Linked DNA regions of Homo sapiens. The protein of the gene in region 2 interacts with the protein of the main gene of each other region in a biochemical or structural test. Each region holds a gene or a part of one and is shown on either strand. Other genes may lie near its edges. The genes, in order: EPS15L1 and FCHO1.

Region 1 (3,907 bases), 1.3 Mb from region 2:
TCCCCTAATTTCAGCCTCCCTACCTGCATCTTATCTCTCTGTGCGCTCCCTCCCCTGGAGCTTCTGTGCAGAGGACTTCAAACCTGCCTTCTAGAGTCCAGAAGGTGTCTCTCTCCTGCACCTCTGCCAGCCTGCTGGACTCTGGAATGGGCCATTTCCTTGCCATGCCCCAAAGTGGTCTGGGCCATTCTACTTCCTACTTGCCCACTCCCTCCCACTTAATCCCACGCCACTGTGGAAGTCATCTTTTTGATTTTTGAGACAGGGTCTCGCTCTGTCCCCCAGGCTGGAGTGCAGTGGTAGGATCATAGCTCACTGCAACCTCAAACTCCTGGGCTCAAGCAATTCTCCCACCTTGGCCTCTCAAGTAGCTGGGACTACAGGAGCGCAGCACCAATCATACCCAGCTAATTAAACAATTTTTTTTTTGAAGAGATGAAGTCTTGCTATGCTGCCTAGGCAGGTCTTAAACCCCTAGCCTCAAGCAATCCTTCTATCTCAGCCTCCTAAAGTATTGGAATTACGGTGTCAGCCACTGCATCTGGCTAGGATTCATCTTCTAAAACATATTCCCCTGTTCCAAAAACCTTTCACAGCTCCCATTCCCCTTCCTCCAAAAGAACTCAGTTTATGGCTGGGCGCTGTGGCTCATGCCTATAATCCCAGCACTTTAGGAGGCTGAGGTGGATGGATTGCTTGAGGCCAGGAGCTCGAGACCAGCCTGGCCAACATAGCAAAACCCTGTCTGTACTAAAAATACAAAAGTTAGCCAGGCATAGTGGCAAACGCCTATAATCCCAGCAACTTGGGAGGCTGAGGCACAAGAATCGCTTGAAACCAGGCGGCGGAGGTTGCAGTGAGCTGAGATCGCGCCACTGCACCCCAGCCTGGGCAACAGGGTGAGACTCAGTCTCAAAAAAAGTCAGCTTTGATGACCTTAGTAAGCCCTGAATCGACTCCACCTAACCTTGCTGGGTCCCTTTCCTGCACTTCTGGCTCTTGGCAACACTTTCTAGCCTCAGCATCCTTAGCTGTGTTGCTCCGGTTGCTAGAACATCACTGTGAGCTCCTGCCGTATGCTGCCTGCCCTGAAGGACGGTCTTTGAGGCCTCCCCTGTGTTGTCCTCCCTTAGCCCCACCCGAATGAGAGTTCTCTCCCTTGTACCTTCCGTGGGTCCCTTTTGTGACCGCTGTACCTAGGAAGCGCGTGGTAACTGGGCTCAGTGATGAGGAGAGACTGCCCTGGGCCCAAAGAGCTACACCTTCCTCCTTTCCCCCTTGTTATGTGTTCTTCATCCAGGAGCTTTTGCTGTATTTCAGTAGGTGCCTCCATTCTAGGAGGCTTTTATTCCCCTTTTACAAGTGAGGAAACCAAGACCCACAGAAATAGAGTAACTTGCTGAAGTCTCATAGTTGGTGGGCGCAGAGCTGAGGTCACACCTGCGTCCTCCTGCCGCAGAGCCCTGCTGTTCCAGATGGCCTGCTGGGCACCTCTCCCAGAGCAGCACCCGGCCAGTGTGTCTGGAATGAATGCTGAGTGGCTCGGACACTTACTTGTCCTCTTGTCCCTTGTTTCTTTTCTTCCTCTGAAATAAGTGCTAGTCTATCTTAGTAGAATGCTAATGGCAATGCAGTCTAAATTGATGAGAACGAAGTTTTAGAGTAAAATCCACTCCTGAAAGATCCAGAATTCCCTGACTGTCACTTATTGACCTGCACTGGCCTGTTTTTTTTTTGTTTTTGTTGTTGTTGTTGTTTTTTCGACTAAATAGATTCTCCCTGGGCAAGACCCCTCCACCTCCATTCTGAACTTTAAAACAACTTTCCAGGCCGGGTGCAGTGGCTGACGCCTGTAATCCTAGCACTTTGGGAGGCTGAGGCAGGTGGATCACCTGAGGTCAGGAGTTTGAGACCAGCCTGGCCAACATGGTGAAACCTCATCTCTACTAAAAATACAAAACATTAGCCTGGCGTCCTGGCGGACGCCTGTAATCCCGGCCACTCGGGACCCTGAGGCAGGAGAATCACTTGAACCCAGGAGGCGGAGGTTGCAGTGAGCCAAGATCACTCCACTGCACACTCCAGCCTGGGCAACAAAGTGACACTACGTCTCAAAAAAAAAAAAAAGAAAAGAAAAGCAGGCACCATCAGGTGCAGTGGTGCCTGCTTTTCAATGTTTAGGTCCTTAGATGTTTGTTTGGATTCCCAGATATTCCTTCACTGCCCTCAGTCCTGCAAATACTTTCTGTACCTTAGTTTTCTCATCTGCAGAATGGTACTGTGGACTCGCTTGACCTGCTTTGTCACAGTAGAGTGTCAGGACCCTGCCGTGTGACGCATGTGCTCTCAGTGCTTTCCTTTTTTTTTTTTTTTTGAGACAGAGTTTCACTCTTGTCACCCAGGATGGAGTGCAATGGCGCTGTCTTGGCTCACTGCAACCTCTGCCTCCTGGATTCAAGCGATTCTCCTGTCTCAGCCTCCTGAGTAGCTGGGATTACAGGCGCCCACTACCACACCCAGCTAATTTTTGTATTTTTAGTAGAGATGGAGTTTCACTATGTTGCCTAGGCTGGTCTCGAACTCCTGACCTCAAGTGATCTGTCTGCCTCAGCCTCCCAAAGTGCTGGGATTACAGGCAGGAGGCACCGCGCCTGGCCCTCATGCCTGCCTTTTGTAGATCACACTGTTCGTTCAGTGAGTATTTATTTGGCATCTTCTTTTTGCTGGACACTTTCTGGGCAGTGGATGGAACAGTGAATCTGAAGGCAGTGCCGCCTCACGGGGCTGACATCGTTGGGAGGGGCCCAGATATAAAGAAATGAGCCCAATGTGTAGTGCATTCGGTGGGGATTGATGCTGTGAGATGAGTAGAGCAGGGCAGGTTCCGATCTGATGATGGAGGTCAGGAAAGGTCTCACCACCAGGCTGGAAGGACTGAGTAAAGAAAACATCATAGATTGCCTGGTTCATCCTCCCGGTCACTCTGGCCAGTATTATCTTCAGTGTATAGGGGCAAGAGGGGCAGATCACTGGAGGCCAGGAAGGGCAGATCACTGGAGGTCGAGAGTTCAAGACCAGCCTGGCCAACATGCTGAAACCCTGTCTCTACTAAAATACAAAAATTAGCCAGGCGTGGTGGCACATGCCTGTAGTCCCAGCTCCTCAGGAGGCTGAGGCAGGAGAATTGCTTGGACCTGAGAGGTGGAGGTTGCAGTGAGCCGAGATTGCACCACTGTACTCCAGCCTGGGTGACAGAGCAAGACTCTGTCTCAAAAAAAAAAAAAAAAAAAATAGATAAAGTGAGGCCAGAGATTGTTACGTCCCTTGCCCAAGTTTGTACCCAGTGAGCTCAGGCAGACATGGCTTTTCTGACACAGGTTCAGGCCTCTTCATTGCACCATAGTTTCTTGTCTTGGAAAGTTATTTTTTTGTTTGTTTGTTTTTAAGTTTATGACATCTCCTAACCTCATTTGTTTTTATACCTAGTTATTAGATATCATGTAGTCTGAGTTTTTATTTTATTACTTTAATCTCATCTCATTAAAAGGTAGAGAGGGACATGGAAAGGCCTGCTTATTGTCTTCCTTTTTCCTTTAGAGACAGGCTCTTGCTCTATTGCCTACGCTGGAGTACAGTGGTGCAATCAAAGCTCATTGCAGCCTCGACTCTTGGCCTCAAGTGAGCCTCCCACCTCAGCCTCTCAAGGAACTGAGACTACAGGCATGCAACACCACACCTGGCTAATTTTTAATTTTTTTGTAGAGACAGGATCTTGCTATGTTGCCCAGGCTGGTTTCGAACTCCTGACCTCAAGTGATCCTCCTGCCTCTGCCTCCAAAGCGCTGAGATTACAGGTGTGAGCCACCACTCCCAGCCAGTTGTCTTTAGGAGAATCCAAAGGTTTCCC
Region 2 (3,907 bases):
GGGCGGGCTGGAGCCTGGGGGCTGGGTTCATATCCCACCTCAGCTGCAAAGTCCCATGGACTACGTGGGTGTGAATAATGTCCCTGCCGAAGCTCAGTTTGTCCCAGGAACCTGCCCACACACCCAGGGAAGACAGTCGTTGCCATCAGGGTTGGTTTTGAGGTCTGAGTCAAGGCCTGGGGGCAGGGCGGGGGGCGGTTGGCAGGGTGAGATGGAAGGTTCGATAGTGGGGCGCCTGACTCACTGCTGCCCCCTGACTCCCCTAGACATGTCCAGAGGTGGATGAAGAAGGTTTCACTGTCCGGCCTGATGTGACCCAGAACAATATCCTTCTGGCACCCCCTGGGGGCAGTTGTTGGCACAGCAAGGACAAAATTCTCCGTAATAACCAGTCCACCTTCAGCAGTCCTCTCTGTGTACATCCTGGAGAGAGTCTCCTTTGTGGATGAAGCCAACCTAAATGTAAACACCCACTCTATGGGGTCAGCACTGGGCAAGAGGGAGAGAGAAAAGGAGATCTAGCAGGGCTTCCTGGAGGAGGGGGCACCAGTGTTGGGGTTTTGCAGCCGAATAGGAGTTTGCCAGTTAGTTCTGGGCATGCTTGTGCAAAGGCTTCTCGGGGGGGGTGGGAGTGCTGGTGGGACATGGTGTCAGGACTGAAGGTGGCGCGTGGTGAGCGATGGGATTGGGCAGGACCTCGAAGGGTTTGAGCAGGGAGGGACGAGGCTGGATTGGAGAGCTGACTGGGGGAAAGCTTGTGTTGGGATTGGCTTGGACCTTGACTGCAGCCCACGCACGGCCGAGCCCTCCCGTTTCTCGTCCAGCGACTCCGACTTCGACGATGAAGAGCCCCGCAAGTTCTATGTGCACATCAAGCCTGCCCCGGCCCGGGCTCCAGCCTGCAGCCCCGAGGCAGCAGCGGCACAGCTCAGGGCCACCGCGGGCAGCCTCATCCTTCCTCCTGGCCCAGGGGTGAGGCGTGGGAGGGGTGCCCTGGGTGTTGCTAGAGAGGCTGGCTGGATGCATTCGTGTGTGATGTTGCCCACTTTGTCCACAGGGCACCATGAAACGCCATTCTTCACGTGAGTAGCCTTTGGTCTTCAGAGTGGGGAGGATCCTAAGGAAGGGAGGCTATGGGTTTGGGCTTGAATCATAACTCCGTTTTGTAACTTTGGGCAGGCTGCTTAACCACACTGACCTTCAGTCTCCTTTTCTGTAAAATGAGGTCATTATGAAATTAAGTGAGAGCTGAAAGGGGTAGCTGGGGCCAGGAGAAGCTAGCATCTGGAGACAGGCTCGCTTAGGCTTGAATCCATGTCTGCCTGATTTGCTGATCACCTTGGGCAACTGGCTGGACACCCCCGAGCCTCGGTCCCTTGGTCTGTGGAGTGGGGAGCATTGCAGGCAGGGTGACAAGAAGGCTGAAGGAGGTGCATCTCTTGTAGGGGACGCTGCTGGGAAACCCCAGAGACCTCGGTCTGCCCCCAGAACCAGCAGGTGGGTTCCACACGAGTGGGCAGGTGGGGGCTGTCCCCACCTCCTCCCTCCACCTCCCCATGTCTCCGCCTGGTGTTCTCTTGTCCCGGCTGGGAGTTGACGTCATGCTGGGGTTTTTTTGTTTTTGTTTTTGTTTTGAGACAGAGTCTCACTCTGTCACCCAGGCTGGAGTGCGATTTCAGCTCACTGCAACCTCCACCTCCTGAGTTCAAGCGATTTTCATGCCTCAGCCTCCTAAGTAGCTGAGATTACAGGCACCCACCACCACGCCCAGCTAACTTTTGTATTTTTAGTAGAGACAGGGTTTCACCATGTTGGCCCGGCTGGTCTCGAACTCCTGACCTCAAGTGATCTGCCCACCTCGGCTTGCCAAAGTGCTGGGATTACAGGCATGAGCCCTTGTGCCTGGCCCATGCTGGCTTTTGAGGGACCATTTAGTCATTCATTTGATGAACATTTATTGAGTGCCTGCTGTGTACCTGTGCTGTTCTAGGGTCTGGGTTCTGAGACAGGTCTCCCTTCTCAGAGTCACATTCTAGTGACTCCAGATTTTAAGAATAGCAAATAGGGCCAGGCGTGGCGGCTCACGCCTGTAATTCCAGCACTTTGGGAGGCCAAGGCAGGCGGATCACCTGAGGTCGAGAGTTCGAGACCAGCCTGACCAACATAAAGAAACCCCATCTCTACTAAAAATACAGCATTAGCCAGGCATGGTGGCACATGCCTGTAATCCCAGCTATTCGAGAGGGTGAGGCAGGAGAATCGCTTGAACCTGGGAGGCGGAGCTTGCAGTAAGCCACTGTTGTGCCATTGCATTCCAGCCTGGGCAGCAAGAGGAAACTCCGTCTCAAAAAAAAAAAAAAAAAAAAAAAAAAAGCAAATAAGTTAGAGCATATTCGATACTTCTAAGTGCTACGAAGAAACTAAAGCAGATGACGCGAAGACAGGAGGAGGTGACTTCCCTTGAGGTGGGGTTGGGAACCTCCCTGAGGGGGTGACTTGGAGCTAAGCCCCAAAGAGGAGCTAGGAGGTGACTGTGAAGAGAGCTGGGGAAATGGAACTCCAGACTGGGAACAGGCTGCACACAGTGGCTCACACCTGCAATCCCAGCACTGGCCAAAGCAGCCAGATCACTTGAGGTCAGGAGTTTGGGATCAGGCTGGCCAGCATGGTAAAACCCCGTCTCTGCTAAAAATACAAAAATTAGCCGGGCATGGTGGCAGGTGCCTGTAATCCCAGCTACTCTGGAGGCTGAGGCAGGAGAATCGCTTGAACGCAGGAAGCGGAGGTTGCAGCAAGCTGAGATCGTGCCACTGCACTGCAGCCTGGCCGACAGAGCAAGACTCCGTCTCAAAAAAAAAAAAGACTGGGAACAGCATGTGCAAAGGCCCCAGGGTGGGATGAGGCTTGGGAAAAATAGAAGCAGCCCTCTTGGCCTCACCCTCTCTAGCTGTGCAGAGAGATTGCAGTCAGAGGAGCAGGTGTCCAAGAACCTCTTTGGGCCGCCCCTGGAGTCAGCCTTTGACCACGAAGATTTTACAGGTGATGGGGATAAGGGATTGGAGGGCATGGGTGTGGCCGGAGGGAGGTTGGGTGGGGCCATTGCAGAGTTAGGCCAATGAGGTCCCCTGGAAGCCAGGCTGGAGGGAGGACTAGTCCGTGTAGGGGTGGGCGGGGCCAGAGTGCGCGTGGGAGGGGCCATAGATAGGGTGGGGCCTTGGCCAGTGGGCGGTGACTGAGTGGATGGGCCGGACATTTGTGGAGAGGGAAGTCACCAGAAGGTGTAGCCTTGGGGGCGTGCACAAGGACTTTGAATGGGGGCCCCCCTGACCTTCCCTCGACGTGGCCGTGGCCTGCAGGAGGATGGGCAGGGACTCTGAGTGGGCGAGGGTCGGAGCTGACCGCCCGCTTCCCTCCCCAAGGCTCTAGCAGCCTGGGCTTCACCTCCAGCCCCTCCCCTTTCTCCTCCTCGTCGCCCGAAAACGTGGAGGATTCCGGCCTGGACTCTCCGTCCCACGCGGCACCTGGCCCCTCCCCAGATTCCTGGGTCCCCCGCCCAGGCACCCCGCAGAGCCCGCCCAGCTGTAGGGCGCCACCCCCAGAGGCCAGGGGTATCCGGGCACCGCCTCTGCCAGACTCGCCGCAGCCCCTCGCCTCGTCTCCAGGCCCCTGGGGGCTGGAGGCCTTGGCCGGAGGAGGTGAGTCCAGCGGGCCTGGGCCTGAGAGTTGCTGGAACCCTGGGCGGGGGATTGAGCGCCTGCTTTGGGCAGGGCCTGATCAGGCTGCTGGAGACACAGCCAGGACCAGGCAGGCAGAACCTCCCACCGTTGCAGGGACAACAATGAGATGGACATTTAGCAAGGCAGGCGGTAGCGGGTGCCAGGTGGGGGCCCTCCCTGAGGAAGGGACA

The links.
Region 1: the proteins of FCHO1 (region 2) and EPS15L1 form a complex in vitro, tested with the Homo sapiens proteins (one study listed by BioGRID).

The regions. Positions count from the first base shown.
Region 1 is NC_000019.10:16,465,371-16,469,277, reverse strand, and holds part of EPS15L1 (epidermal growth factor receptor substrate 15-like 1), read left to right. Parts: intron 1-3,907.
Region 2 is NC_000019.10:17,775,190-17,779,096, forward strand, and holds part of FCHO1 (F-BAR domain only protein 1), read left to right. Parts: intron 1-266; coding exon 267-324; intron 325-793; coding exon 794-972; intron 973-1,057; coding exon 1,058-1,082; intron 1,083-1,445; coding exon 1,446-1,497; intron 1,498-2,947; coding exon 2,948-3,039; intron 3,040-3,419; coding exon 3,420-3,695; intron 3,696-3,907. UniProt on the Homo sapiens protein: Functions in an early step of clathrin-mediated endocytosis. Has both a membrane binding/bending activity and the ability to recruit proteins essential to the formation of functional clathrin-coated pits.